Linked DNA regions of Homo sapiens. The protein of the gene in region 1 purifies or fractionates together with the protein of each later gene. This does not show direct contact. Each region holds a gene or a part of one and is shown in the gene's direction. Other genes may lie near its edges.

Region 1 (5,138 bases):
GTGAGGGATATTATGTTTTTCTAATACATTTGAGACCTGGAGATCATGTAACAAGTAGTAAGAGCTTGGACAGTGAGAGTTACCTTTTCTCCAAACGGTGCTATCAAAGAATTTATCCACATGGATTAAGGTTCTGATAATAGTTGTTAATGGTAGTATCTCACATAGCAAGGATATGTGTATGCATTCACGATTTCTTATAGAGAATCTTCTCTGAGAAATGTCTTTGATCCACCAACTTCAAGTTCCTGGAGTGACCTAATTTTGCTGTTTCCTAGTGTGCCTTTAGAAGGGTACGTTGTTGGAGCAATCTAGGTTATCCTGTGGTTTCTTTGCAGAGAGCTCAAGAGTACCATATTATACAAAGCAGCCACTTTTTCTTAATTTTTGTGTAGGTGACAGTGACCCCTAGACTGGAGGTTCCTGGGAGGTAAAGGACCTGTCGTTCTAGTCTCTGCAAGAAAAATATTGCCTAAAGTTATCACAAACATTTACACAATTGGATACCTTAAGGTTATGTTATGGAATTTTACCTTAATGTTTCTGCTTATTGCAGAAAATAAAGTAACAAAGGTAGAAATAAAAGAATATAAAAGATGCTCAATCCCAGAAATAAATATTAATTCTGTAATGCGCATTTTAACATTCTTGATGTTAGGTAATTTTATGGTTTTCAATTTTAGAATTTAGCAAAACTTCCTTGAGAAAGCACTTAAAAATTAAATTTATTGTTTACTGTAATCAACTCATTTTCATCAGGTGATCTCTGCTTTTAATATACATGGTTTAATTGATTATCAGAATAATAGCAGCATATTCTTAGTTTCATAATTAACATACTTATCATTTATTGTATACTTATAGGCATCAGTGATAATATGAGCCTGACATTGTTGAAAGTAGAGGCCAGAAGTAATGAATATAAACCGTATAGTTCATTCATAAATTCAGGATGTATAATTGGTAATAAAGTTATACATTTTTTTTATGGGCCAGGCGTGGTGGCTCATGCCTGTATCCCAGGACTTTGGGAGGCCAGGGTGGGTGGATCACTTGAGGTCAGGAGTTTGAGACCAGCCTGGCCAACATGGTGAAACACTGTCTCTACTAAAAATACAAAAATTAGCTGGGCGTGATGGTGCATACTTGTAATCCCAGCTACTGCACAACAGAATGAGACTCTGTCTCAAAAAAAAAAAAAAAAAAAAAAAAAAAAGGTTTTTCTCCCATTCCTTCGATTGGAGTGTTGGGCCTTCTAAAGCAAGGAGCTTCTTTGGCAGTGACAGTTTTTTGTTTTTTGCTTTTTGTGTTTTTTTGAGACGGAGTCTCACACTGTTGCCCAGGCTGGACTGCAGTGGCGCGATCTCGGCTCACTGCAAACTCTGCCTCCTGGGTTCACGCCTTTCTCCTGCCTCAGCCTCCCGAGTAGCTGGGGCTACAGGCGCCCGCCACCACGCCCGGCTAATTTTTTGTATTTTTAGTAGAGACGGGGTTTCACCGTGTTAGCCAGGATGGTCTCGATCTCCTGACCTCATGATCTGCCCGCCTCGGCGTCCCAAAGTGCTGGGTTGGCAGTGACAGTTTTAATGCTTGTAGGGATGAAATAAATTACAAATCTAACTTAAAATATTATCATGACAAAGTATTAACAGCCGTTGGAGCTTAACATAATGTGTCTTGAGCTTCTAGTCCCATGTCAGAACCTAGAATACATATTTCTCTACAATTGAGAAGGGTCTTGCTAGGTGTTTAGAACACAAATGGTATTAGTAACACAGTTTTAGGTTAACCTGACACGGTTAAAGATTATTCTCTGCAAAGCTGCTGGGCTTGTAAATACAATTTCTTGAGAGAGGAATAAGAAATTGAGTTGATAAGTTTTCAAGAAGAGAATTGATTGAAATATTATACCTCATTGGTGTTATCTTTATAAATTTTTATGCAGCCATTGCCGAAATCTAAAAAAACTTGTAGCAAAGGCAGTAAAAAGGAACGGAACAGTTCTGGAATGGCAAGGAAGGCTAAGCGAACCAAATGTCCTGAAATTCTGTCAGATGAATCTAGTAGTGATGAAGATGAAAAGAAAAACAAGGAAGAGTCTTCAGATGATGAAGATAAAGAAAGTGAAGAGGAGGTAAAATATTTTACTATATTTTTAAATCATTTCTTTCCATGGGGAGAGTTAAATATTTCTGCTATAAGGTACAGCCAGAAAACACTTCCTTATTGGTTGTTTTTAATTCTGAAGATGCAGAAATGATTAAGTATGAACCCATTTCTTTTCCTTAAAGAGCTTTTAGTTTCATTACCATGTCAGAGTATGAGTCAGAAAAGAGTGAGGTTGGTGTGGACTGGATTTGAAGTGGGCCTTGAGCTGGACGTTGAAGACTAGAGTAGATAAATGGGAAGGGAAGCGGAAGTGGTGCATATCCTGAATAGGACCACATAGGAGCAGATTCTTCGAGGATTTTTTTCGTAATATATTGATACTTTATAATTGACTTGGATCATTTTATTTTACGGAAAAAGCAAGGGACTTAAGGGCCTTTTTCCCCCCCTCAACCTTTAGGGGACTATGTAGTGAGAATAAACAGCATTTGAAGTTTATATAATGAGTGGATAAATTTTGTATTACCTGTCATTTTCTTTTATTTGGGAGTATTTGTAAAAGTTGAGACTCTTAGTTTCCAAAGTGAAACTTCATGAAGAAGAGAACTGCTGAAGCAGTTAAATAAGAGGGTTAACCTCTTCAGTCAGGTAGATCATGGAGAGTGGGTACAGGAGATGGGTTTCTATTATTGTTAATGATGTTTTGGTAGACTGTATTTTAACTTTGATGTTTTCGTTCAAAGGTTGGAACTTGCTCTATAGATTGGGTAATCAACCTTGCCTTATTTAGGGACTTGGATAATGTCAACTTGACATTTTGGACCAGATGATTCTTAATTGTGGGTGATATTCCCAAGCTCCCCTTGTGACAACCAAAAATGTTCTTCAGACATTGTCAAATGTCCCTGGGGCGAGACAAGGAGGGAATCATCTCCACTGAATTAGAAGGAATAAAGATATAGTGAACTCTGGTATTATATGATATGTGTGGGTGTTTAGTATGTATGTTTGTCTTGAGTTATTTACAATTCATGCTTGTTTTAGCGTCAAATTTTATAAAGACTTCTATAAAGCTAAGTATGAAATGCTTCATCATTTAAGAAAGAGGGTTACGAATCTAGTAGGTGCTTCATAAATATCTTAATATATATTTGGCACAAAGGAAAATAAGTAATCTGAGCATTAAGGTCTTTATGGATTGGATATCCGGGAGGAAAACATGTTTGTTTGTATGTATATATATAACAGTGGAAATTTTTAAACTGATAGTATCTTCATTCAGGAAATATTTGGTGTCTACTGTGTGCCATTCAGATTCCTAAACTCTCTTTATGGGCAGAGTTAAAGCACGAAACATTATCATAGAATATAAATGTCTAATTTTTTCATAGAGACGTTAGCATGGGCTCTGGAAACTGAGTTCAAATCTGACCTCTATATTGGATTATTACTGTATTAGTATAAGCAAGTTATTTAAACTATACCTCAGTTTCCCATCTGTAAAATGGGGAGTGATAATAGTATTAGCCTCATAGGGTCATATTAAAGGATTTTATTTAAAATACTTAGAGCGGTGCCTGGTGCATATAGTATGTAAGTATTAGTTGCTATTATTATTAGAATTAAAATGATGTTTTATGACAAGTAAAACTTCTAAATCGAATCTTCTTGTCATTACTAGGTGCAGGTTAAAAAGTGAGGGCAGGCCGGGCATGGTGACCCATGCCTGTAATCCCAGCACTTTGGGAGGCCGAGGTGGGTGGATCACCTGAGGTCAGGAGTTCGAGACCAGCCTCACCAACATGGTGAAACCCTGCCTCTACTAAAAATACAAAATTAGCTGGGCGTGGTGGTGCATGCCGATAATCCCAGCTACTCGGGAAGGCTGAGGCAGGAGAATTGCTTGAACCGGGGAGGCAGAGGTTGCAGTGAGCTGAGATCGCACCATTGTTCTCCAGCCTGAGCAACGAGCGAAACTCCGTCTCAAAAAAAAAAAACGAGAGCATTTTATACTCACTTTTAAAATTCGCTTTCTAAATTGTTGTCCCATAGTTCTGTAGAGGTAGTTGAACTTGGTGTATGCAGATGATACCTGATTTATACCCATATTGGTTCCAGGATAATAATCACAAGTGGAACCATCTCACTATAAATCAAACCTTTACCTTCTGTAGTGCCCTAATCTAGGGTCTGTGACTAGAAACCCAGGTCAATTGATGAAAATCCATGGGAGAAGAAAATGTAAAAATGCTTTCAGACATTAGGTGTATGAAATCACACAATATAAAAGCTATATCATATTTTATTAGAGGGATTTTTTTGCTACCTTTGCTAGTACTTGACAGATTTTATAAAATGTAAAATAAAATTTGGACTGAGAAATTGTTTCCCCCCCTTTTTTTTCCCTGATAAATGTCTCTCCAACAAGCATTGTTGCTTTAAATTTAGCACTGTCTTCAGCTTTTTATTGCTGATTCAGTTTCTGTGAAAGGCCTTTGAAAGGTAAGTTCTGGCAGGAGGAACAGTGTATCTGTGGCAACTTTGTTTTTCCTTATTCCATTTTATGAAGACTCAGTTCTAAATGTCAGCCATGTTAGGAACTTCATAAATGGAGCTATTTTTGGTCATTACTATGGAAGGACCTCTTTTCTAAGAAGCCATAAAGAAAAGTTGCAAGTTAGTCACAGAAGTTTTGGATTGCCTGTAGATTTCTTTATGATAGGAAATTAGTGAGTTAATATTCTGTTTATTTTCTGACACAGATTTTTCTTTGATAAATAAAAGACTCTTATTCATTAAGATCAGCTTCTTGTTCTGTTTTTCTTGGAGTAAATAACTGTGAATTTGGGTAGATTGATTTTACTTTGTTCAGTTTCCTCTGTAAAATGAGGATTTTGAACTGTATAGTCAAATATACTCTATTCATTGTTGAAGTAAGAAATCTTATGCAAGCCGAGTAAGTTTATAGTTCTCCTTTGGCTAATTATATGAGGTTAAATTGTATTTATTTTCCTCCTAGTTTCATGTTT
Region 2 (5,138 bases), on another chromosome or scaffold:
TCATGGTGAAAAGGGAAGCAGGCACCTTCTTCACAAGGCGACAGGAGAGAGAACATGTGAAGGAGGAACTGTCAAACACAAAGCCATCAGATCTCCTGGGAGCCCACTCACTATCACGAGAACAGCATGGGGGAAACTGCCCCCGTGATCCAGTCTCCTCCCACCAGGGCCGTCCCTCATCTTGTGGGGATTATGGGGATTACAATTCCAGATGAGATTTGGGTGGGGACACAGAGCTAAACCATATCAGCATGTGATCCTCTCAACGTTCCAGGGGTCTCGTAACATGCCGGGCCTGTCTGCAGCCACGCTGGCCTCTCTGGGTGGGACTTCCTCTCGGAGAGGCAGCGGAGACACCTCCATCTCCATCGACACCGAGGCATCCATCAGGGAAATCAAGGTGAGATGCTCTCTTCTTACTGACAACTTGAGAGAACCTTTTGTAAAAATCAGTCTTTAGATTAAAAAAAAAAAAGTTAATTCATAAAGTTCTGGATCTTTCTTCTTGGTCCTCTCTCCCTCACCTCCCCTAAAATACGGTGTTCTCCTAACATCAAGACCCAGCTCAGATAGTGTCTCCTGCAGGAATCTGATCCTACCCACTGACCCCCCAGCAGGGCGGACCGTGTGCCGGCCCCCTGCGCCCCTCAGCACCCGGGGAATACCTTAGTGAGAGCACTTGGCACGTTGTGTTGATGCACTTGGTCGTCTCTGTATGCTTGGTCTGCATAGACATTCAGTCCACAAGTTTGGACACCAGACGGCTTTACCTACTTTCACACAACCCCTCCCCACTAAGTATGTTCCCCTTCGGCCTAGAACTTGCCCTTTCCTTTCTCTTTGTAATGTGCCTTTAGTAGCCCTCATCTTTGTATTTTAATGATTTTTTTTATCCCACTGTAGTGTAGGTATTATTCTCTGCTCTATCCTCAGCACCCAGGACAGTGCCAGGCATTTGGTAGTATTCTGTGTGTGAAAGAGAAACACGGTGCTATTTGTTAAAGTAACTAGGGACAGTGCATCTGAAAACCTGAAGACTGGAAGGGCAGGTGAGGTGACTAGACCTGTGTCCTCCAGGGAGCAGAACCAAGACAGAAGCAGCTGAAAGGAGCCAGAACTGACTCAGATTCTGAATTTTCTAGTGCTTTAAACTAGGTTTAAAAGGGAAGCAACTTCCACTGGGGATGTCTGAGCAGCTGGATGGCCGTTTGCCAGGGAGGACGGAGAGGGATTTAAGCATCCACCAGAGTTTGGCCAGGGTTACCTTGAAGATGCTTCCAACACCTATGTTTTATAAGTTTACAAAACCAGAAGAGCCATTTCCCATGTGCCACCCCTGGGCCACCTGCAGCTCCTTGTTGCTTCCCTTTTTTTTTCCTTTTTCTTTTCTTTTCTTTCTTTCTTTTTTTTTTTTTTTTTTTTTTTTTGGAGACAAGAGTTTTGCTTTTGTCACCCATGCTGGAGTTCAATGGCACGATCTCGGCTCACTGCAACCTCCACCTCCCAGGTTCAAGTGATTCTCCAGCCTCAGCCTCCTGAGTAGCTGGGATTACAGGCGCCCGCCACCATGCCCGGCTAACTTTTGTATTTTTAGTGGAGACGGGGTTTCGCCATGTTGGCCAGGCTGGTCTTGAACTCCTGACCTCAGGTGATCCACCCACTCGGCCTCCCAAAGTGCTGGGATTCCAGGCGTGAGCCGCTGCGCCTGGCCTGTTGTTTCCGTTTCTACAGCAGAGCAGCAGAGTTGGCGGCAGTCCTGATGTTTCTCTGCCCTTAGGTTGCGCGTGCCGTTCATTTGTTCAGGTACTTACTGAGAGGCTGGCTGGTGCCAGATGCTGTCCCCGGCACCAGGAATTTGGCAAAGTAGAGACTTGGAGCTCCATAAATGCAGGGAAAAAGTGCTACTGATTTTTGCCTCTAGCATCTTACTGTACATTGCACAGAGTAGGAACTCCTAGTGCTTGAATGAATTACTAAATAGGAGTTGAAATAACCTGTACCGTTTTCCGAGGCTCTATTTTGTCTGTTTTTTAAACTGTGTAAAATCATATGAGATACACTAAAATTGTATAAAATCATGTAAAAATATCATATGGGATACACCTGAACTTTAATCTTTAAATATTGAAGTTTATTTTCCCTTAACGCTTAATAAAATAAAAAAGAAAATTGGGTGCTCAGACTACCCAAATAGAAACTACCCTGAAGTATAAAAGATTTAGGGAATCACCTGTTTTCCCTTGACATCATCTGCCTTTTTTGCCATTTCCCCCAGGAACTCAATGAGTTAAAGGACCAGATTCAGGATGTAGAAGGCAAATACATGCAGGGATTGAAAGAGATGAAGGTACCAATTCACAGACGTGTGGTCTCACGATATTAACCCAACTTAACTTAAAAAAAAAAACAACATCCTAAAGAAGAAATTCAAAGTGCATGCTTACTGTAAATAGGCTCCAGGGTGTAGAAGAACTCACAATGGCAGGAGTGCCGGCATGGGTGTACACTCACCATTTTCCCAAATGCATTGTTTGAACCAAGATTGAAAATGTAACTGCCCAGTAGAAAAGGTTACTAACATACTCCCTGATGCATGCCTTAGACTTACCATCCTTCCCCCAGGCTTAAAACCAGTTTCTCATTTCCCATAGGCGTGTGCCAGACACTTGAAGAAGGTTCTTGGTTTTCTTCACTTTTTGTAGTAGTTGTATACAAAAATGCTTCAGTTGATTTGCTTCTCAAAATATCTGATGTCTACTAATAAGGCCGTCCTCACATGCCACACTTTTGAAACATCCCAATTATTTGCACCCTGTAAAATGCTACTAATTGAAGTAAAGACTGACTATGGCATTGGCTTTCTTGGAGCGTGTGCACACTGCTTTTAGAGTGTGCAGTGACTTCATTGCACCAGCCAGGAGATGTGGTTGCCCTGTTCCTTGACAGTAAGGTGGGCAATCAGTGACTGTCTTCCTTAGGCAGCAGCGGATCATGGATCTGGAAGTGGGTGGCGTATCTGTTACTTCCTTTTCAGCCCCCTAGAAAGTACCTGCAAGATCATTTGAATTTAATATCAAAGGGCACCAGACAGAGGAGGTGACATCGATCATGACTAATTCACTATCTTCATATCTGCCACCTTTCCTGAAAGGGGGAAAAATAAGACTCTGGCTTTCAATTCATGCGAAAAGGAGCCACTTGGCCAGGCGTGGTGGCTCACGCCTGTAATTCCACACTTTGGGAGGCCGAGGTGGGTGGATCACCGGAGGTCAGGAGTTTGAGACCAGCCTGGCCAACATGGTGAGACCCCGTCTCTACTAAAAATATAAAAATTAGCCAGGTGTGGTGGTGCGCACCTGTAATCCCAGCTACTTGGGAGGCTGAGTCAGGAGAATCACTTGAACCTGGCAGGTGGAGGCTGCAGTGAGCCGAGATCGTGCCACTGCACTCCAGCCTGGGTGACAGAGCGAGACACTGTTTCAAAAAAGAAAAAATGCTGCTGGGGAGCCACTGAACCAACCGGAGACCCGCTGGTCCCACGTGAAGCAGCTGTCCTGGTGTGGAGGTACAGAGCTAGACCAGCACTGGTCCCTCCAGCCCCCTGGTAGCCTCTGCTGCACCTGAACTGGCAGCTCTTGCCGCTGCCTTTAGCTCTGCATGTATGCGCCCTGAAGGTTCTGCCTCTCTGTTTTGGAATCGCCTTCCCCTCCTCATGTTTGGGGACCTGCAAGGGTGTGAGGCACGTGAGGGCATCGCCATGCGTATTTTACAGGCCTCTTTCTCTGGACTGTCCTTCAAAGGGAATGACCTTTGTCTTTCCAGGACCTACCCAGTGAGATCTGCCTGCCATTTTCCTATGAGTCAAAAATCTGAACTCACTACTGCTCCTTTCCTGGTTCATAAGCCAGAGTAGGGCTGGTTGGCAGTCACTGGCTTGTGGCCCTATGTAATTATCTCAGCCATCACACACTGGCTCTTTCACAAGGGCTGGTCACACGCCTCGAGTGATTCTTCAGAAATCTGTTGAACAGCCTGACACCCAGCCCTAGGACGCCGTGCTGGGGGGATTCCCCAGCTACTGAGTGGGGCCAGAGACTCTACTGCCTCTGTGACCACATCCCTTTCCATACTGGTATCTCGTTTGTTCTAATGAGTGTGTCCATTGCTTTTAATAGTGAATTTTCTGAGCAATGAGAATTTGACCAAATTGAAAAGGGGGATTTCCATGCATTTGAAATTGCCATGTGTTTCTTCTTCTGATCCATTTGCTCTAAGAAATATAGTCTAAGTTTAGGACTGAGGGTTTTTTTTTAACAGAATACTGAATGATTCTTTGTTTTGATTTTTTTATTGCAATTTCAAAAATATGACCTGCTTTCCACAGGACTCTCTAGCAGAAGTTGAAGAGAAATATAAGAAGGCTATGGTTTCCAATGCTCAGCTAGACAATGAAAAGACAAACTTCATGTACCAGGTTGATACCCTAAAAGATATGTTGCTGGAGCTTGAAGAACAGCTGGCTGAATCTAGGCGGCAGTACGAAGAGAAAAACAAAGTAAGCATTAGTATGATACAGAATGTTAACAATAGGCTGCGTGCAGTGGCCCATGCCTGTAATTCTGGTACTTTGGGAGGCCAAGGTGGGAGGATTACTTGAGCCCAAGAGTTCGAGACCAGCCTGGGCAACATGGCGAGACATCATTTCTAAAAAGAATTAAAACAATTAGCCAGGTGGTACATGGCTGTAGTCCCAGCTACTTGGGAAGCTGAGGTGGGAGGATCACTTGAGCCTGGAAGGTTGAGGCTGCAGTGAGCTGTGTTGACACCACTGCACTCCAGCTTGGGCAACAGAGAAGACACTGTCTCAAAAAAAAAAAAAAAAAAAGGGAATGGTAGGGTGTGTGTGTGTGTGTGTGTATGTATGTATGTATGTGTGGATATATCGTGTGTATGTATGTATATATAATGTATAATTTACATTATGTATTTTTATATTTTTAAACAATGGCTCTCCGCTTATCCAGGAAATCCAAACATCTGAGAATAAAAGTACCATACTCTTTGCCAAGTGACTTGAAATATTGATACGTATAATTTCAACATGTAAACTGGAGACAGTTTTTCTAGGAGAACATCTA
Region 3 (5,138 bases), on another chromosome or scaffold:
GTAAATATTATTTGTACTAATAGTAAGTATTTATACATAGGAAGCTATAACTGTTTTTATTATTCACTTTTAAGATTTAATTGTTGCTGTTTGGGAAAAGTGTAGCCATAATATCAGACAGCTTATTGTTCCCCTAAATTGGTTCCTGTCTCAGTTTATCAATTTGTCCTACAGCAACTATTTATGTTCATTTAAATTGCCTTTTAAAATATTCATGTCAGTTTTTTTTTGTTTTGTTTTGTTTTAATTCTGAAGTCAACTTGCTATATTGTGTTTTTTAAATCATTTAGTCAATCAATTCTTGTATCTGGGGAATTAAGAGTAAGTTACCTAGGAAAACATTGACTTTAGGGTAGATTCTCAAAATCGCCAAGAATGAAGAAATGTAGCACAGTCCCTTAAAATATGAAGGGTGCTGTTTCTTTACTGCCTAGCCATAGAGAACAAGCTGTTACGTTGTTCACAAACACTCACGTTAGCATCTGAGATATACCAGATTTTAAAGTAGTAGAGAATATATCCTGGTAATGTGAAGGGTGCGCCTGGATCACATAGTGCGTGACATGTGAGAGCACTAAATGTGTGTGCTCTCCTTTATTTTAAAATAATTGAACCAATGATTCTGATTTTTTCCTGCTTCCCCCATAACAATTTGGAAGCAACTTTTTACGTAAGAATGAGTAAGAAGGACCTGCTCTCAGGTCCTTCTTAAGGGAGGAGGGGAATAAAGATCCCCTAAGGAAAAAAAAAAAATCTGTTTAGAATTCCAGCCTGTGGTATTTTTACGAAATAGGAAAATAGACTGTCTTACTTTTTGAAAAGATCCTATTTAATGTATTGTGATGTCAAAAGGAAATGGAATGCCATGTAACTGCTATGTTTAAGTTTTTATTTTTATAGTGCAGGATAGGTGCAAAAAAGCACCAGTTTGAACTGTTGTGTCATGTTTTTCTTTTATAAAATATTAACATCGGCCTCAGCAACATAGCAAGACCCTCCTTTAGTACAAAATTAATTTTTAAAACTTAGATATGGTGGCATGCACCCATAGTCCCAGATACTCAGGAGGATGAGAAGGAAGAGTCTCTTAAGACCAGGAGTTTGACTCTGCAGTGAGCTATGATTGCTCCACTGCACTCCAGTCTGGGTGACGAAGCCAGACCCCATCTCAAAAAAAAAAAAAAATTCTTTGAGAACCAAAGTATCTGTATTATTGAAAATAAAGGCTATTGTTGGTCCCATTAACCCATGAGCTGAACATATGAACATGTATTGATATACCTCAAAATACACACAGTAGGACTCTTTTTTTTTCCTGTTTTGCAACAGAATAACATTTCAGTCACTAGGACTCTTGATTCCCACTCTTCTTAATCATCATTTCCATCTACTGTCTGCATTTTCTCTATCCCTTGTCCATCCTGCCTTTGCATACACATAGGCAAGAGCAGGGATTTTCTCACTGAATCCCTCTCAATCTTATTTACTACTTAGGTGAGGAATACCAGTCATAATAGGACCTCAGGAAAACCAGCCATCTCTTTTCTTTGATATTTAGAATGTGTATAATCCATTTGTTCTCTGCACTCTCTAAATACCATAGTCTCATTTTCTCCAATTTCAGACATTCAGATAATTTTTTCCTAAATTTATTTTAAAAGGAAATTTTATATCACTTTTACAAATGGAGAACATACATCACTGGCCATAAATAGAAGGACTCTATAATAATAAAAGCAATAGACCAGGCACGGTGGCTCACGCCTGTAATCCCAGCACTTTGGGAGGCTGAGGCAGGCGGATCACCTGAGGTAGGGAGTTCAAGACTAGCCTGACGATCATGGAGAAACCCCGTCTCTACTAAAAATACAAAATTAGCCGGGCATGGTGGTGCATGCCTGTAATCCCAGCTACTAGGGAGGCTGAGGCAGGAGAATCGCTTGAACCCGGGAGGTGGAGGTTAGTAAGACGAGATCGTGCCATTGCACTCCAGCCTGGGCAACAAGAGGCAAACTCCGTCTCAAAAAAATAAAATAAAAATAAAAGCAACGAAAGTATTATGATGTTCTAAATCCTACCTAAATATTCTTACTCTTAAAGCTATGGTCATAAAACCCACTGGCTTTCTTCAAAAGGTAGATTACATTATTAGAAAGTTGTAAAGATATATTATCACCAAACTAAAACTTTGCTTTTGCTTTATTCAGAGGAATTTAAAGATAATAGACAAGAAATTTCTATTTAGGGCTATGTCCCTGTACCACACTTTAGGGAATGAAACACTGTCATATGTCCTGTCAGATAACTGAGTTAAACATTTCACTTTGCAGTTAACAAAACAGCTAGAGCCTAGGTATAATGCTGTGGTATGTGTCTTAGTTTTTGCTTTTTCCGTTCTCTCATAATAAGTGATCCTGAGTATGTCTATTTTTCTCTCCAGGATATTTTGCTCATCAACCTCATTATAGAACATATGATTTGTGATACAGATCCTGAACTTGGAGGAGCAGTCCAGCTTATGGGCCTGCTTCGAACTTTAGTTGACCCAGAGAACATGCTAGCCACTGCCAATGTAAGCCATGAGCATTTCCCCTCTTTTTCATAGCTAGTATATTGTGTATTGCTGGTAGGAACCAGTGTGGTTAAAGTTCATGGAATTGTTCTTGTTTCCTTAGAAAACAGAAAAGACTGAATTTCTGGGTTTCTTCTACAAGCACTGTATGCATGTTCTCACTGCTCCTTTACTAGCAAATACAACAGAAGACAAACCTAGTAAAGGTAAGATAATTCAGGTTGGTAGTTAAGTTCTCTGTTCTTGAATGCTGAATTCAAAGTTGGTGTTAAGTCAGTCTTTTTAGGAGGCAGTTAGTGGGAGGTAGAGGCTGGGAGGACACACCTTTTAAAAAGTAGTAGTCTTTAAAAGTTCAAACCATCAGGTTAACATAGAGGTCTTAATAATTTGGTTGGTTGGTTGGTTGGTTGGTTGTTTTTATCAAAAGCAACCTGGAGAATTAATGATGTATTTTGAAAAGAAAGGTTCATGACAAAAATGTCCCTAAAAGGCCTGTAATCCCAGCACTTTGGGAGGCCAAGGCAAGCGGATCATGAGGTCAGGAGATCGAGACCATCCTGGCTAACACGGTGAAACCCCATCTCTACTAAAAAAATACAAAAAAAATTTAGCTGGGCGTGGTGGCAGGTGCCTTGTGGTCCCAGCTACTGGGGAGGCTGAGGCAGGAGAATGGCGTGAACCCAGGAGGCGGAGCTTGCAGTGAGCCGAGGTCGCCCCACTGCACTCCATCCAGCCTGGGCGACAGAGTGAGACTTCAACTCAAAAAAAAAAAAAAAAAAACAATTTTCCTGAAAGTACTGTAATCAGATAACAGAAACATGTAAAAGAAATAAGATAATTTTTTGTTGAACAATATTTGTATTCAGTTTGCATCTACACTGGTGAAATATAAATAGAAGGCAGTAGCTATGAAAAAATTCATTTTAAATTATTTGTACTCCAGATGTATAGACAGAGCTAGGATTTTTGCACAATATTAAGCTACTTTTATTTATATTGAAGATATGTTAAGGTTTGTTATTTTTGTATTATATTCATTAGAGCTTTAGCGTGCGTGTGCGTGTGTTTAATTTAGGAGGTAGTTTTAGGTCTACATTCAAAAATTGCTTATTTAAGCTTTAGGAGTAAATACATTATTTTGTCATTGGAATTTTTTTTTTTTTTTTTTTTTTTGGAGACAGAATCTTGCTCTGTTGCCCAGGCTGGAGTGTGGTGGCGGGATCTCGGCTCACTGCAACCTCTGCCTCCCAGGTTTGAGCAATTCTCCTGCCCCAGCCTTCTGAGTAACTGGGATTACAGGCACCTGCCACCATGCCTGGCTAATTTTTATATTTTTAGTAGAGGCAGGGTTTTCACCATGTTGGCCGGGCTGGTCTCAAACTCCTGGCCTCAAGTGATCTGCCCACCTTGGCCTCCCAAAGTGCTGGGATTATAGGTGTGAGCCACCACGCCCAGCCTTGAATTCTTAATATAGCATAATTATAGCACTCACATAAAACACAAGTTAAATTTACTTTTTGTGTAACTCCAGAATCAAGTCCATGAAATGTGAATGTCCATTTTTCTTACCTGCTTTATTCATATTAGGTAAAGCTTGAGGCTTCTTTCCAAACCACATGTTCTATTCCTCCAACCTTTATTAAGATGAGAACTCATTGTGATTTTGTGAAGGACTGTGTTATAATCTAAACGTGGGGGAATGAAAAAAAGCCTTTCAGAGGCTTGCTGCCTAGTGAGGAGTAAAGATAAGTCAATGATTATAATTCAGTATAGACTCGTTACAAGTAGTAAAGGAGGCACAAAACACACTGGAATCAAGGGAACAGGGAGAGAGAGTAATTGCACCAAAGATGACACGGTGTCTGGCAAAACCTCATATGCTATATCTGTTGGAGAACATGCTAAGGTACCTGGTAGAGGGTCCTTGAATTTTGGAATAAGGCAGATACTCTAGATTTGTATCATAACTCTGCCTTACTAACTTTTCCAACTTGGGTCTAGTTAGTTAATAGGCTCATAATGTGAAACAGTTTCTTATAGGGTTGTTAAAATTAAATAAAAAAAAGTAAAGCACCATTCCTGGCACATGTTAGGCGTTCAGTAAATGCTAATTTCCTCCTCCCTAAAGTTAATATATTTAGGTTAATAGAAGAGATTTTACTTGATTAGAATTTGAGTTCTTACATTTTAGAAGGAAAAATGTTAGTCATTAAATATAATTAGTTGTGTTTTGTTTCTTTTAGATGATTTTCAGACTGCCCAACTATTGGCACTTGTATTGGAATTGTTAACATTTTGTGTGGAGCACCATACCTACCACATAAAGAACTACATTATTAATAAGGATATCCTCCGGAGAGTGCTAGTTCTTATGGCCTCGAAGCATGCTTTCTTGGCATTATGTAAGTGTTAGAATTATTTATCATCTTTGTATATTGACATGTTGGTATTTTTTACATCTTATTGCCCAAATGAAAAGACCACTGATTACAGGTCAGGAGATCTAGGTCGTAATACTAGCTCTGCCACTGATTATGCAGGTTTGCCATGTTGAGCAGGTGTTTTT
Region 4 (5,138 bases), on another chromosome or scaffold:
GACTGGAACACATTCACCACTTCTCCCCTTGAATGCGTGCACACCAGCCACAGTCCTACCACCATTTCCAGGTTTGGCTCAGTATCAGGCTTTCTGACCACCCCAGGCAGAAGAGATCCTCGCTCTCACAGCAGCATTCTTGCACCTGCCCCAGGACCATGTAAGGCTGTCGGCCAGGTCTTCCTCCCCTTTCCTTGTGGGTGTTGTAGTCACCCTGGAGCAGGCTTTTGACTTCATTTTTCTGGCATACCTAGCACTAAGCAGAGTGCCTGGCCCGCCATAGGTGTTCCATTAATGTGTATTGAAAGAATGCATTTTTATTAACAAATTTGTGAAGGAAGTGATGGCTGCACCTGCTGTTCTCACCACCTTCTGTGCTTAGTCACGCCTTCTTTTAGCTGTTTGGAAAGCATCTAAACAGTGGGAAGCCTTGGTTTTACAGCTGAACTGAGGAAGGACAAAACAACAACTAAATGATTTAAAACTAAATCGGCCACCACTCCTTCCCGTTTTTATGTCATCATACAATCATTAGTGACCATTTTCTATAAGGGTGCTACGTCCTAAAGTGTATTTATTTTTCAAGGTACTGTCACCGTCAGATTACCCCAGTATGGTCCTGGGACATTTGTACATCCTTGTTACCACAACCATGAAGGAAGCAGGGTTAAATGTATTATGTTATATGACAATATCAAAAATTTCTTTTTTTTATTATAGTAGGAATTGGTGTTTGAGAGCTGGTCCCTGCAATAACATAATCTTTATATTATGGTTGGTAGCATTCAAAGATCTTTCAAATACCAGTAAGAATAACCAATCATTATTTTAATACTGAAAAAGAAAACCATAATTTTTCTGTCTTAAAGTGACAGTTATATATTTTATGTCACTTTCCTCCTGAATGTTTCCTCATCCTTCTTTTATCTTCAAATATCTGTTAGCCCAAATAGAGAACTAAGGAATTTACCCCTGGTGTGGACAGGAAAATATTAGGCCAGTAGTTGGATATGGTGTCTATTTTATAGGAGTTCAAATTCTATGTTGCATTGGATTTTATTGCAAAGCAGTTACTTACTCCCCTCCCCCAGGTTGCCTTTATTTAAAAATGAGTGAAATATAAATATAGAAGCCTTTATCATTCTATTGAATAATAACACAAAATGAAAAAAACATAATGATGCAGAAAGTTGAAATAATTTTTTTTTCTGTAATATACAGGTAACCTTACTCCTAACAGTATTTGGTGAAGATGATCAGTCTCAGGATGTTCTGAGATTGCATCAGGATATTAATGATTATAACCGGAGATTCTCAGGGCAACCCAGATCTGTAAGTAATGCTAAAGCATGTTCAAAGTTAGAGGAAGACACATTTCTTCTCTTTTGTAAAGTGAGGTTTACCAACAAGTATTCTTTGACTATGAGAAATCTTGGCCAGGCACAGTAGCTAACGCCTATAATCCTAGCACTTTGGGAGGCCAAGGCAGGTGGATCACTTGAGCCCAGGAGTTTGAGACCAGCCTTGGAAACATGATGAAACCCCATCTCTAGAAAAAACACCAAAAAATTGGACAAGAGTGTTGGCACATGCCTGTAGTCCCTGCTTCTTGGGAGGCTGAAATGGGAGGATCACCTGAGCCCAGGAGGTTGAGGCTATAGTGAGCCATGATCGCACTATTGCACTCCCACCTGGGTGGCAGTGAGACCCTTCCTCAAAAAACAAGAAAAGAAAAAGAAAAAAAAAAATCTCATTATATGTGTTGGGTCAAGTTTTTACCTTCATTGCTGCCAATCACTACATTACACCTTTCCCAAGGACTACAATTTTCTTTCTTAAAAAACAAACAGCATTATAAAAGTTTTTATGAAAGAGAAACTAGCAGAAAAGCAATAGAAAAAATTAGAGGGAAATAGAAAATTATTTACTTCTTTGTGATACTAAAACACCATTTGTCTTTTGAGAAAAGTTACAACTGAAAACTTTAAGTTTCACAGTTGTGGTTTATTCTATTTGCCCTAGCCCTGTTTGAAATGTTCCCTTAAAAAAATTCCAGGTTGGCTGGGGGCGGTGGCTCACGCCTGTAATCCCAGCACTTTGGGAGGCCGAGGCGGGTGGATCACCTGAGGTCAGCAGTTCGAGACCAGCCTGGCCAACACGGTGAAACCCTGTCTCTACTAAAAATACAAAAATTAGCTGAGTGTGGTGGCAGGCACCTGTAATCCTAGCTACTCGGGAGACTGAGGCTGGAGAATCACTTGTACCCGGCAGACAGAGGTTGCAGTGAGCCGATATCACGCCACTGCACTCCAGCCTGGGCGACGAGAGTGAAACTCCAAAAAATTCCAGGTTTAGGCCGGGCACAGTGGCTCACACCTGTAATCCCAGCACTTTGGGAGGCTGAGGTGGGCAGATCATTTGAGTTCGGGAGTTTGAGACCAGCCTGATCAACATGGTGAAACCCTGTCTCTACTAAAAATACAAAAATTAGCTGGGTATGGTGGTTTGTGCCTGTAGTCCCAGCTACTTGGAAGGCTGAGGCAGGAGAATCACTTGAACCCGGGAGGCAGAGGTTGCAGTGAGCTGAGATCACGCCACTGCACTCCAGCCTGGGCAACAGAGTGAGACTCCCGTCTCAGAAAAAAAAAAGTTTGGAGGGATATGTTTATATGTCATCTTAGCTATTTAAAAGCAGAACACTGTACAGATAACCTTTCTTCCCCTTACCCTAGAAGTATTTGATAAATCAAAAACTAGCACATTTTACTGACTCATTCTTGTTTTATCAAAATCTAACACATTCTTAGAAATGTAAAACTGAATAAGTACTTCAAAAACTAGAATGTACTAAATCCAAATTTATATGGACAGCCCAGACCTCTCCTCTGAGCTCCAGACTCTGTAGATCCAACTGCTTCGCTTCCATTTCAGCGTGGGTGCTCCACAGACATCCCTAACTTAACACGTGGAGTATTGAGCTGATTCCCTCCTTGACATAGTCTGTTCTTTTCTCAGTTTTGATTTCCTCCTCTTCTTCATTCCTCTCATCTGGTCTATAAGTAATCCTACCTTTTCTTTCTATTTTTGGGGTGTCCTATTATTTTTACTGCATCAACATATTCTTGCTGGCTGGGCACAGTGGCTCATGCCTGTAATCCTGGCACTTTGGGAGACTGAGGCAGGCAGATCACTTGAGCTCAGGAGTTTGAGACCAGCCTGGGCAACTTAGCAAGACTTTGTCTCTACCAAAAAATACAAAAATTAGTCAGGCACGGTGGTGTGCACCTGTAGTTTCAGCTACTTGGGAGGCTGAGGTGGGAGGACTGCTTGAGCCCGGGAGGCAGAGGTTGCAATGAGCCAGGATCACATCACTGCACTCCAGCCTGGGTGATCGAGTGAGACCTTGTCTCAAAAAGAACAAAAATGTCTTGGCTGTGTTGTTGTTGTTGTTTGAGACAGATTCTCACTCTTTCCCAGGCTGGAGTGCAGTGGTGTGATCACGGCTCACTGCAGCCTCAACCTTCCAAGCTCAGGCCATCCTGCCGCCTCAGCCTCCCAAGTAGCTGGGACCACAGGGGTGCATCACCACACCCGGCTAATTTTTTATAGAGACTGGGTTTTGCCATGCTGCCCAGGCTGGCCTTGAACTCCTGGGCTCAAGCAATCCACCCCCTCAGACTGCCAAAGTGCTGGGATTACAGGTGTGAGCCACCGTGCCCAGCCTGTGTCCACTTCTTTCAATCACTGTAGACATTGTGCTGGTCCAGCCCTGTCATCTCTGCTCACGGCAACCACAGTGGCCTCCTCACTTCTACTTTTTTCCCTGCCACAGCAGCCTGATACATGTTTTCTAGACATAAATGAGACCATGATGCTCTTGTGTTTGAAAACTTCTATTTTGTTTGTTTGTTTTGAGACAGGCTCGAGTGCGGTGGTGCAATCTTGGCTCGCTGCAACGTTTGCCTCCTGGGCTCAAGCCTTCCTCCCACCTCAGCCTCCCAAGTAGATGGGACTACAGGTGCATGCCACCACAACCCGGCTAATTTTTATATTTTTTGTAGAGATGGGGTTTCGCCATGTTGGCCAGGCTGTTCTCAAACTCCTGGGCTCAAGTGGTCCTCCCACCTCGGCCTCCCAAAGTGGTGGGATTACAGGCATGAGCCACCACTTGTGGCCCAATGTCTTTGAATGTTCCAACTCCTTACTGTGGCTTACAGGGCGCCACATGATCTGGTCCTCCCTCCCTCTCCAAATTTCTGTTAACCGCCTCAATCACCACCCTGCAGCCACCCTGCTCTATGCTCTCAGCACACACACAAACTCCTTCCACCTTAAGGCTGTCACACCTGACACTTCCTCTGCATGGAATGCTTGTCCTTCTGCTCTTATGGTGATTTCCCAGTCTTTAAATGACAACTATCTTAAGTAGACCCTCCTTGGAGAAGTTTTCCCTGCTCTGTGGCGCCCTCTGTACCTTTCCTTCATGGCGTTTATCATAGACAGCACTCAATTCTTGTTCATTATCTTTCTCTCAGTAAACTAAAAGCTTCATAAGGGTAAGGACCATTTTTATTTATTTACCACTGCCGAGTTTCCAACAGTGCCAAATTTGGTGCCTTAATGTGTGTTGAATAAATGAATTACTGTTAAGATAAGAATTGATACTGCTGCTCCCAGCCGAATATATTAAGCTATTCAGATGCTTCAGTGTTAAACAGACATGTGCTCATGCTCCATTGTTCCTTGTTCTGTGAGGTCGTGTACATTTCAGGGCATAGATTTCAACTGTTATGGATGATAATGGGTAGATTTACCCATTTTTCATTGAGCAGGAAAAAAAAAAACTTAATCCAATCATGTTGTCCTCCATAATTATTTGGGAGCCTCTTCTGCAATTTTGACCCAGCAATTTTTTTTTTACATATCCTCCGGTGACATCAGTAGGATGGTTCTTTAAAAATGCAACCTGTTTCAAATTTAAGAGCTACCACTAAACTTTAATAAAGTCATTTAACATTTTTCTTTTCATTTCTTTTCTTTTTGAGACAGAGTCTCGCTCTGTCGCCCAGGCCAGAATGCAATGGCGCGATCTCGGCTCACTGCAACCTCTGTCTCCTGGGTTCAAACAGTTCTCATAT
Region 5 (5,138 bases), on another chromosome or scaffold:
GCAAGGAGCCTGTGAGAGACCAGGAACTCCTGGATGGCAAGGAGGGTGAGTGAGAGGTCCTCTTCCACACCTAGTGGTTAAGAGCGCAAATCTGGAACTAGACAGAGCTGTGTGGCCTCTCTGTTCAGTTTCTTCTCTCTATCATGTGGGTGGCGACTATACGAAACTCGCAGGGCTGTAGGGCTGCAGTGGAATGACTGTCAGCTGTCATGGTTTGCATTTGCCATAGGGCACGGCCCAGGAAGGTGCGCCAGAAGTGTCTTTTGGGTCGATGGTGGCCAGCTGGTGAGTGGCACGGGCTGAGAGGGATGGGGCTGTGTCTGCCCAGGCCCATCTGCAGTGCCCAGTGTGCTTCCAAATACCCAGAAGGGCTCGTTTTGTCACAGTGGAGATTGTGGACCGGGAATGCCAGCCGTGGCCCTGGCCTGGCCCTGCCTCTGTGTGATCCCGGGAGAGTCTCTTGCCCTTTCCGGGTGGCGGATTCCTCAGCTGAAAAATAGGGATTGGGGCCAGGGGATCCCTGGCTCTGCTTCTGAGTCCTGCAGAGTCAAAGGACACTCCAAACAGGGGCTGGCCCTGCCCCTGCACCGAGTGTCTCTGGCCGCAGCCTGGGCATTCGGAATCAGCCCCTTGTTGCTGTTCGTTTCTGCTTCATGTGCCAGGCCATTGCCGCCCCCCTGCTCATGCCCTGGGCCTGACCTCAGGCCAGGTGGGACCTCCCTCCTCCTCCTGAGCCTGAGAGCTCTGCGTAGGCCCGGGGGGGAAGCCCTTGGTTTCTCCCTCATGGCTCCTGTTTGAGCAGTTGGGGCTGCCAGAGGTGTGACCGACCACAGGCTTTTAAATGTGGACAAGGTTAAAATTAATAATAACCTTGCCAGGCATTTGTAGGAGTCCTTTGCAGAGCACCTGCATGGACATTAGTCACTAACATGTATGGCATACCTAACATGTACTGGACTGTCCGCTCAGTACTTTGCCCACTTTACAGATGAGAAAACTGAGGCACAGAAAGGTTACCAGGACTTACGTAAAGTCATACAAAAGACAGAGGTGGGGCCTGAAGCCTGGCCCATTCAACCCCCAAACATCCCTTTGTTAACTGGCCAGACCTCTGTTGCACTTTGATAGCCTAGACATCTGGGTAGATGGGCACAGAGAGGTTAGCTTGCCCAGGCTGCACGCCTAGTTGGGTCTCAGTGGGAGGAGAAGGGGTGAGAGGAAGGTCCCTGGACCCTGGCTGGAGCCCGGCCCCCCGCGTGCCTCTTCCTTCCAGGTGGCCGACCAGATGACGCTGCTGCAGAACTGCTGGAGCGAGCTGCTGGTGTTCGACCACATCTACCGCCAGGTCCAGCACGGCAAGGAGGGCAGCATCCTGCTGGTCACCGGGCAGGAGGTGACCAGTCCCTCGGCCCCGCCCCTGGGCCCCGCCCTGGCCCCGCTGTGCACTTCCAGGATTCAGGGCCCCGGAGAGGAGGACCCAGGCCTCTCGGGGCTGGCTCTGGGCACCCTAATTATCAGCCCTTTCCCCACGTTCATGGAACACCCACTGGCCCAAACCCTCTGTGAGCAGCCCTGGCCCAGGCTTGAGAGGCGCCGGCCCCTGGGAGCCCTGCTCTTGGGGAGCAGCTCAGGGGGTGTGGGCATGGTGAGGAGAGGCTCATGGAGGAGGAGGTGATGGTGGCCCTGGGTCTGGAAATAACACACTGGAGTTGGCTGGGGAATGAGGGATGAGGGGGGCAGTCCCCACGTCTACCGCAGGCTCAGAGAGGGTGGAAGTGTGGAGCCCCCGGGCCCTGCTGGTGCCGGTGTGGGGGTGGCATGAGGTGAGAGATGAGGGAGGCTAGGGGGTTGCTAGTGCTGGCTTAGCAGGCAAACCTTGCAGGCCCTAAATCTCGAATGAATGAATGAATGAATGAATGGGCAAAGGGCTCCAGAGAGCTCAGAGTCGGAATTTGGGCCCCCTTAGAGCAGGGAATGAGGATCTGGGGAGTAGAAAGTCCAGATGCAGCAGGGGTCCGGGGAGAGCTTTAGGAGGAGGAGGGACATGGCCAGGTGGTATCTGAGGAGGCAGGCGGAGGGGTCAGGATGGGAGGTGGGGGGCCAGGGTGGGGACACGGGGGCACAGCCACGGAGGAAGACTCACCTGGAGAGATGGGCTGTAGGGAAAGAGAGGGAGGGGGGGAGGCAGAGAAGGGGGTTGATGGCCAGGGTCCAGCCTGCTGGCAGGAGTGCCACTCTCAGGTGGGGACACAGGAAGGGCCGTGGGGTCGGTGGGTGCTGTGGGGTGGGGAAGACAGACTCTGCTCCCAGCTCCAGCCCTCCCAGGCCCCCACTGCTCATCTCCAGCTCTCTCCTCGGTGTCACAGGCCATCGGGGCAGGAGGACGGGACGGGCAGCACTGGTCCCAGGGGGGTGTCTTTGGGGCTCCCTGTGAGCGCAGGTGCCTGCAGTCTGCATGAAGTGTGGGTGTCCGCAGGCTGGCTGAGTCTCTGTGGCCATGGGAATGCCTGTTTGTGTGTGTGTGTGTGTGTGCCTGCCTGTGTTTTATTGTGCAAAATCTCCACACACATCAGTGTGTGGGTGTCACTGTCTTCCCATCAACCCGTAAATGTGATCACATACATGGGTGTATGTGTTGCCGTGAGTGTGAGCGTACAAGGGCGGGTGTGGCCGTGTGCACACGTGTGTGCCTTCACTTCACAGAGTGGGCGACCCCATGACTGTGCTCGTGTGTGTGTGTGTGTGACTCTGAGCTGAGCTGTGACCCAGCGTGTAGGTGTGAACATGGGGGCTCTGGGAAGCCATGTGGATGTGTCTGTGTGTCCCCACACAGGCCTGCCCTCCCCAACCCCTCCCCTCCCAGCATGTAGAGGGGCCCCCTGAGCTGCTGGTGCTGCTGGGCCTGGTGCTGGGGTTTGTGTGTGAAGGAGGGGTGGACGCGGGCAGAACGTGGGTGCCTCAGCTCCGGGCTTGGCGGGTTGAGGAGAGCTCGGAAGGGTGGGCCCGGCAGCGTCCCCGGGGCTGTGCAGATGTTACCCGTGCCTGGCTCGGCACCAAGGCTGGGCCCTCCTGACGCCAGCCCATCTGACCTGCACCTCCAATCCATGCCCTCAGCCCTGCATCCCCCATCAGAGAGCCACCTGCCCGGACCCACGTCCTCTGACTGTCCCCCGCCCCGTGCCCTCTGCCCCCAGGTGGAGCTGACCACAGTGGCCACCCAGGCGGGCTCGCTGCTGCACAGCCTGGTGTTGCGGGCGCAGGAGCTGGTGCTGCAGCTGCTTGCGCTGCAGCTGGACCGGCAGGAGTTTGTCTGCCTCAAGTTCATCATCCTCTTCAGCCTGGGTGAGTGCAGCTCCAGTGACAGAGAGGTGGAGACAGCCAGAGGCGGGTGGGTGGGAGGGTGGGTGAGGCTGGAGAGGTAGCCCTGCTGTGGCCAGAGTGGCCACGAAGGAGCCTCGGGGAGAAAGGACCCCTCCCTTACTCATTCAGTGAACAAAGGTCTGAGGGCCCCCGGCCAGGGCCTGGCTCTTAAATGGGGGCTGCTCCCGCTCTGGTGGCCCATGTGACTTTAGGATTTTTATTCCAGGCTCCCATCCTGGGGTCCCTGTTTTCTCTAATCCCTGGATCTAGGGGGCCCCAATTTTGACTGTACCTCCTGGGGGCCTGGACCCCTTTGCTCATGCACACGTGCATCCATTCATTGACTCTACAAACAGGCACCGAGAAATTGCACTGGAGAAGGCACTGGGAATACCGCTGTGAGCAAAAACCCCCCAAGCCCAGCCCTTGTGGTACTGACCTTCTCTAGGGGAGACAGATCATGAGCATAATATGATTAGTAAGACGTAGGTTCCTAACACGATTAGGCAGGCATAGCCAGGAAGGTTGTGACCAGTGCTAAGGAGGAAAAGAAAGCAGAGGAGAGGCAGAGAGCAGGCCTGGCCCAGCCCAGCCCGGCCACCCACCTCACTCCCCAAGCACTTGGGGGGTCTCCTTCCCGTTGCCCTCCTGACCCCAACCCTGCCTGGGCCACTCCAGTCTGCACCCTCACTCCCTGGAAAGCCATCACAAATGCCCTCCCCATGCCCAGAGATGCTGAGGACATAGCTGTCCCTTGCCAATCGTGAAAAGACCTACAGCCTGGGTGGTTAGGGCTGAGACAGAGAGATGGGTGTGGCTTAGGGAACCCTGGGTGGGGAGCAGAGCTCTTTCTGGAAGGCTTCCTGGAAGAGGGGCATCTGAGCAGGGTTTTGGAGGATGAGTAGGAGTTTTCTGGGGGAATGAATTATTTTGCAGTGATGCAGGTGGGATGGGATAGAGATGAGTGAGTGCTTCATCACCTGGAGAGGGGGCAGGATTAAGGTATTGTCTTGGTGGCTGGCATTATAGTCACAGTCTGCGAGGGGCATGCCTGCCAGAGAGAGGGAGGAGTGGGGAGTGGGGAGTGTTGTGGAGGCAGAGGGGATTAACGAAAAGTGGGAAGCCCAGTGCTTGGGTGGGATTGGTGACATCCTCCATGCCATGTGGCTGGGTGCAGTGGGCTGGGTCTCCCGATTCTGGCAGAACAGGCTGGTAACTGGAGGGCTTATCTGCAAGGCCACCTTAAGCCACCTCTCAGGACACCAGCCGGGGCTCTGCAGGGGTCAGCAGGGGACAGCCATTGGGGTGGGGGGCGGGTAGGATCTTGGGCAGCCAGTTAGGAGCTGTGGCCTGAAATCCTTACAGGAGCCTCAGGGACCCAGGCTCGGTTGGCTGCAGCTGGGGAAGCTCCCTCCTACCTCTGCCCGCAACGGCACCTTCCCCGCAGCCTGCCAGGCTCAGCAGACTGGCACAGGATAGAGTCACAGATGTGCGTGGTGGGGGTCTGTGTGGTTGGGGCGTGGAGCCTGCAGGAATTACGTGAACGTCTGTCTCTGCATGCGTGCGTGCTGGCATGTGCAAACGATGAACTTTCATACGCTTGTGGTTTCTGAAGTGTTAGCCTGTGTGAAGAGTTTGTGTGTGACTGGGGATGGACCGGGAGATCTGGGAACATGAGTAATTTGTGGGGAAGGGTGGTGCTTGGAGGCACCTAGAATTGGAGTGTGTGTCCGCGGGAGTCCGGGTGGTTTGTAAGGTGAGAGTTCTTGACCTGGCTG
Region 6 (5,889 bases), on another chromosome or scaffold:
AAGTATGTGCTCATTCTTTTTAAAATCTGTTTCTACTCAGATGTCCTGCAGACTCCCCAGAATGCACATATTTTAAAACAAAACTATTTTTTCAAAACCTATTTTTCTTTTTTTTTTTTTTTTTCTTTTTTTTGAGACGGAGTATCACTCTGTCACCCAGGCTGGAGTGCAGTGGCAGGATCTCGCCTCACCGCAAGCTCCGCCTCCCGGGTTCACGCCATTCTCCTGCCTCAGCCTCCGGAGTAGACGGGACTACAGGCGCCCGCCACCACGCCCGGCTAAGTTTTTGTATTTTCAGCAGAGACGGGGTTTCACTGTTTTAGCCAGGGTGGTCTTGATCTCCTGACCTCGTGATCCGCCCGCCTAGGCCTCCCAAAGTGCTGGGATTACAGGCGTGAGCCACCACGCCCGGCCTCAAAACCTATTTTTCTTCCAGTATTCCCTAAATGACCCGGTTAATGTTACTGCATTCCTACAGTTGTCCAAGTTAGAGAAGCCCTTAGGGTTATTATCTCCTCCTTCTTCCTCATTCTATCCACAGCTTTTCAGTCATGTGCAAAACTATGACACGCTTAGGTCTTTGCTTTCACTGTTCCCAATATCTTAAACTTCTTCACTTTTCTGACACCTGTACAACTCCTACTTACTTTCCAAGATGAAACAAAATTATTTAATCTCCAAAACTATGTCCTCTGCCTCAAGGAGCATTTAGTTGCTTCTTTCAAAGTACAAGCATCTCAAGTACATGTTGTATGGTATTTATTTACTGCTGGCTCCCCTATTAGATTAAGGATTCCTTAAGCACAGAGAGCATGATTTCGTCATTTCTGTATCACCAATACTAAGACAAAACGCATAGAACTCGATACATGTGTCAAATAAATAAATACATAAATTTTACAAATCAATGAAAATATTGTTTCACATGATTTCACCGTCTTAAACTTTCTATATGTTTCAATTTTTTGTTAAATTGACTTTTGCTGGTGCTCTTTTGGTGCTTACTTTGGATTAATAATAGAATCATTTTAAATTTTGCACCAAATGACTACAAAGTTAAATGTCTATGTCAAAAGAAAATTTATTGACTTCATTATTAGAATATGAAGTGGTTTTTTTTGCTTTAAAACTTTGTTTAAAATATCTAAGGAGGCCAGGTATTAACTCTGAAAAAACTGTATAATTATTTATAAAACAGATCCCATAGGAGCAACTGAACAGCTGTGGAAAGATTTGGCACATCACTTTGCCAGCCTGAATTTAATGACCTACATGTGAAGGGCTACATATCCAATTACTAATCCTCCCTCAGCTACTCTTTGCCCTCATATGGAGGCAGCTGAAAAAAGATGCCCTACTAACAGATCAGAAGTGGATCCAGACTTTTTTGCCAGTGCTCAGTTAACAAAGATCTTTTAGGTTTGAGATGAGGAAGAAACAGAAGAGGGACTCACAACAGTGTTATAGCTGATACAGTGTTTCAAGTAAAATTTAAGGGCTTATGGCAAGAGTGACTTTAGTTTTGTAACTAAAGTCAAAGAAATTTCGGCTCTTTTAGAGAATCTCAAATTCTGGATTTAATTTTCTATTCACTGAAGCCTTTAAACATGTTCAAATATCTTCAAGGATAATTTACTTCAAAATTCTTTCTATATGAGAAGCCAGTCTTCTATTCAAGATGCAAACCTCATTCTTACCTTCAAATTCTGCAATAATCACCTATTAGAAGTAGAGGAGAAAAAAACTAAATAGAAAATGACAATCTACGGGGTTGTATTTCATTTCTCTCTCAGTTGACATGATCTATATATAGCAAAAGATTATATAAGGTCAAGTATTATAAACAATGAAATGTCATCTGATGTTTTGCAAAACAGCATAGGAAAAATAGCTCAAGGAATGAATAAAGAGTAAAGCTATGGCTGTTTTACTTCAGCCATAAAAAAGCCTTACAGATTCTAAATTTAAATGCATTTTATTGTGAATCTGACTCACTTTTTGAATTTAATTTTCCACTTGAGTTATGTAAAATCATGTGATATGGTAATTTTCTGTATAAATTAAAAATAATATAGGCAAGAGATGTTTTTCTCTCATTTTCAACACAGAAAAATTAGGAGCCTTTCTTCGTTGTTTTGCATTTTTAACAGTGGGACTATCTTAATTCCTTCATCCAATACTCACAAGAATATATGAATGAATACACGTCTGCAGGTACACACTTAATTCTTGAACGGGAAAAAACAGACATCACTGTAACTACCTCCCACTCCCAAAACACTAACTCCAGACCCCGCCCCGCATAAACCCCTCCCCTTTCTTCCATTGCGGGTTCGAAATGGCCGCAGTTCGATGACGTAAGACGCAACCGCCGTAGCCTCCACTGCGTAACTACCGCCCCTGCCTCTGGGAATTGAAGTTTCTGTGGAAGGAAGCGTGAGCCGTAACCAGGCCAACCCAGAAAGGCTTTCTTTCTGAGATTTCACTTCCCTGTCAACTCTTCAGCTCGGTAAGTGTCCTGGCACTGGTTGGCGCTCCCCCGCACTATGGTATTCTCTGGACGCAAAGGGGCGCGTGCCATGCAGCCCCCTACTAGCAACAAGGGCTTCCGGGGGAGAGGGGAGCAGTGGTGTGGAAGTGGTTTCCTGCGGCGCTCTTGCTGAAGGAAATGACGTCGATGACAGGCGCCCCCCGCGGCCTACCCAGCTGCTCCCTGGTTCGCCAGAGACAGCTTAATCCCGTCTCTGAAATGCGTTTGCTGGCTGGGAGCCTAGAAGGGATAGTGGGCGAGGCTCCGCCCCGTGGTGGGGCGCTTTCCGTCGGCGTGTGTTTTGGGGTTGCCATCGGCCCGTAGTATGTGAAAAGTGAGTTTGCAAAGAATCAGTGGGAAATCTGTACTCTAAAGGGCCGGAAAGCGTGTTATGGCCCTGCCACTTCGTGGCTAGAGACCGTGGGCTTTACCTCTTTAAAGCTGCCTTACCTCATTTTTCCTGCAAAGGGCTGACGTCGCTGAACTCTCTGAAATGTAGAGAGCCCGAGGGGAAGTTGCTGCAGGTGCTGTGAGCTGAGGACAGTTTTATAAAGATCGAAGTGTTACTTGATTTCACTGAAATACTTTAAATTTGGGAATTTTTCTACAGATATGAAGAGGATGGCAACACATTACTTGTCACTTTCTGAAAGAATTTCATCTGCCCCTTCCATTCCCAACCCTCTGCCCAAAAGGCTTGACAACTGAAGTGAACAAAGGGCTTTTCGCTCCTCCACGTTTAGTCCGCATGTCTTTTAAAAGGGCATTCCTGGCCGGGCGCGGTGACTCACGTCTGTAATCCCCGCACTTCGGGAGGGCAAGGCGGGTGGATCACCTGAGGTCAGGAGTTCGGGACCAGCCTGACCAACATGGTGAAACCCCGTCTCTACTGAAAATACAAAATTAGCCGGGCGTGGTGGCGCATGCCAGTAATCCCAGCTACTGGGGGGGCTGAGGCAGGAGAACTACTTGAACCCAGAAGGCGGAGGTTGCAATCAGCCGAGATTGCGCCATTGCACTCCAGCCTGGGCAACAAGAGCGAAACTCCGTCTCAAACAAACAAGAAAGGCCGGGCGCAGTGGCTCATGCCTGTAATCCCAGCACTTTGGGAAGCCGAGGCGGGTGGATCACGAGGTCAAGAGATGGAGACCATCCAGGCCAACGTGGTGAAACCCCGTCTCTACTAAAAATAACAAAAATTAGCTGGGCGTGGTAGCGCGCACCTGTAGTCCCAGCTACTCGGGAGGCTGAGGCAGGAGAATCGCTTGAACCCGGGAGGCAGAGGTTGCAGTGAGCCGAGATTGCGCCACTGCACTCCAGCCTGGGCGACCTAGCAAGACTCCCTCTCAAAAAAAAAAAAAAAAAAAAAAAAAAAAGGCATTCCTTTGCTATCGCTGTCAAGTCATTAATTCCAATCTGCATTATTCCCACATTCGTTGAGATTTTTCTGAAAAGGAGACTGTCATAAATTAACGACGATTATTTATTTTATCCCAATCCATAACTTAATGCAGTTTTAAAAAACTTTTTTTTTTCTTTTGGTGCTCATTGATGTAGGATGTGTCCTTGCCTTACAAAGTGAGATAGTTTGTAAGCCCACTTAATAACCTATGTCTGCGAATGAACCCCACAAATTTTTAAAATTTTATGCAGGAGTAAAATTTCACACACACACACACACACACACACATATATATATATATAATTTTTTTTTTTTTTTGGAGACGGAGTCTTACTCTGTTGCCCTAGTTGGAGTGCAGTGCTGCGATCATGGCACACTGCAACCTCTGCCTCCCGGGTTCAAGCGATTCTTCTGCCTCAGCCTCCCGAGTAGCTGGAATTACAGGCGTCCACTACCACGCCTGGCTAATTTTTGTATTTTTAGTAGAGACGAGGTATCGCCATGTTGGTCTTGAACTCCTGACCTCAGGTGATCCGCCCACCTCAGCCTCCCAAAGTGTTGGGATTACAGGCATGAGCCACTGCGCCCGACCTCACACAAATATTTTTATAGTTACTGTAAAATACGTTCTTGAACATTTGTTGAACTTGGTTGAATGAATGAAAATGTACTGTGAGCATCACTGCATGTGAGAAAGGAATGAAAAACTCTGCCATGGAATTTTATAAATTATTGCCCAAACTAAAACAATTAGAAAGCAAGTATACCTAATAAAATGCTGTTTTGCTTAACAGGTAATCTGAACACGCTAGTACATAGTGCAGTGTAGATATACATTATACTTATTGTATAGTGTAGACAGTGCGAGTTGGTAGATATCTTTGTAAAGTATACTATACGGAATAATTTATAAGATATCAGGTTAGCATCATTTTTGTTGCATTCCATTTGTCTCAGTGCACCTGGCTTATTTAAAGCCTAAAAACTTCACTTAGTACAGTCGTTTTCTTAGTTAGGAATAGTTTTTAAAAAGATGATGATGATGATGATGAAGATGTTGACCATCTCATGACCTTTCCTTGTGTTTGAGAGATTGAAACATTAATGTACTATGACAGGTCATATTAAATTTAACTTAAGACTTCTTAGATAGGAAAGGCATATGCTCCCCCTGGTGTACATGACCTGTAAAACATTACATTGCTCTTTAAAAAGTCTTCACGTAGGCCGGGCCTGGTGATTCACGCCTGTAATCCCAGCACTTCAGGAGGCCGAGGCAGGCGGATCACGATGTCAGGAGTTCGAGACCAGCCTGACCAACGTGGCGAAACCCCTTCTCTACTAAAAATACAAAAATTAGCCAGGCGTGGTGGCGCGCGCTTGTAATCCCAGTTACTCAGAAGGTTGAGGCAGTAGAATCGCCTGAACCTGGGAGGCGGAGGTTGCAGTGGGCGGAGGTTGCAGTGAACGGAGATCGCGCCACTGCACTCCAGCCTGGGTGACAGAGCAAGACTCTGTCTCCAAAAAAAAAAAAAAAATCTTCACATAGAGCTAATCAACACATGCCGTTTTTGAATAAAATAGAGAACTAACTGAAAATGATGCCACTGATAAACAGAAATGTACTCTCTTGGAATATTATTATTTCATGAAGAGAGCAATTTGTTTCCTGTGAATTTTAATTGTGCTTTTAAGTTTCCTCCACTCGGTGTCGTTTTGGATACCTGCATAGCTGAATTTTATTTAATGTATTGTGTATTGCAAGAAAGGAAAATAAAAGTGATCCAGGGGATCAAAATACATATTTTTTAATTTTTTTCCATCTAGCCTTTTTAGGCTTATTCAGTTTCCCCACCTCCAGTTTCTTAAATTGAATGCTTACCTTACTTTCTAGATTTTTTTTAAAAAAATTAATGAATGCATTCAAGGCTATATGTTTATCTCTAATTACCTTTTT

Evidence for each region.
Region 2: the proteins of DEK (region 1) and LRRFIP1 fractionate together in Homo sapiens (co-fractionation; one large-scale study listed by BioGRID). This does not show direct contact.
Region 3: the proteins of DEK (region 1) and PPP4R3A fractionate together in Homo sapiens (co-fractionation; one large-scale study listed by BioGRID). This does not show direct contact.
Region 4: the proteins of DEK (region 1) and RNF170 purify together in Homo sapiens (affinity purification with western blotting; one study listed by BioGRID). This does not show direct contact.
Region 5: the proteins of DEK (region 1) and NR5A1 purify together in Homo sapiens (co-immunoprecipitation; one study listed by IntAct). This does not show direct contact.
Region 6: the proteins of DEK (region 1) and TRMT10A fractionate together in Homo sapiens (co-fractionation; one large-scale study listed by BioGRID). This does not show direct contact.

Annotation. Positions count from the first base shown.
Region 1 is NC_000006.12:18,246,647-18,251,784, reverse strand, and holds part of DEK (protein DEK), read left to right. Parts: intron 1-1,945; coding exon 1,946-2,134; intron 2,135-5,138. UniProt on the Homo sapiens protein: Involved in chromatin organization.
Region 2 is NC_000002.12:237,748,925-237,754,062, forward strand, and holds part of LRRFIP1 (leucine-rich repeat flightless-interacting protein 1), read left to right. Parts: intron 1-274; coding exon 275-400; intron 401-2,275; coding exon 2,276-2,347; intron 2,348-4,384; coding exon 4,385-4,555; intron 4,556-5,138.
Region 3 is NC_000014.9:91,470,673-91,475,810, reverse strand, and holds part of PPP4R3A (serine/threonine-protein phosphatase 4 regulatory subunit 3A), read left to right. Parts: intron 1-2,440; coding exon 2,441-2,572; intron 2,573-2,675; coding exon 2,676-2,778; intron 2,779-4,815; coding exon 4,816-4,974; intron 4,975-5,138. UniProt on the Homo sapiens protein: Regulatory subunit of serine/threonine-protein phosphatase 4. May regulate the activity of PPP4C at centrosomal microtubule organizing centers.
Region 4 is NC_000008.11:42,857,939-42,863,076, reverse strand, and holds part of RNF170 (E3 ubiquitin-protein ligase RNF170), read left to right. Parts: intron 1-1,221; coding exon 1,222-1,332; intron 1,333-5,138. UniProt on the Homo sapiens protein: E3 ubiquitin-protein ligase that plays an essential role in stimulus-induced inositol 1,4,5-trisphosphate receptor type 1 (ITPR1) ubiquitination and degradation via the endoplasmic reticulum-associated degradation (ERAD) pathway.
Region 5 is NC_000009.12:124,489,285-124,494,422, reverse strand, and holds part of NR5A1 (steroidogenic factor 1), read left to right. Parts: intron 1-1,273; coding exon 1,274-1,393; intron 1,394-3,194; coding exon 3,195-3,342; intron 3,343-5,138. UniProt on the Homo sapiens protein: Transcriptional activator. Essential for sexual differentiation and formation of the primary steroidogenic tissues. Binds to the Ad4 site found in the promoter region of steroidogenic P450 genes such as CYP11A, CYP11B and CYP21B.
Region 6 is NC_000004.12:99,560,533-99,566,421, reverse strand, and holds the start of TRMT10A (tRNA methyltransferase 10 homolog A), read left to right. Parts: upstream 1-2,382; 5' UTR 2,383-2,509; intron 2,510-2,698; exon of another isoform or gene 2,699-3,054; intron 3,055-5,889. UniProt on the Homo sapiens protein: S-adenosyl-L-methionine-dependent guanine N(1)-methyltransferase that catalyzes the formation of N(1)-methylguanine at position 9 (m1G9) in tRNAs. Probably not able to catalyze formation of N(1)-methyladenine at position 9 (m1A9) in tRNAs.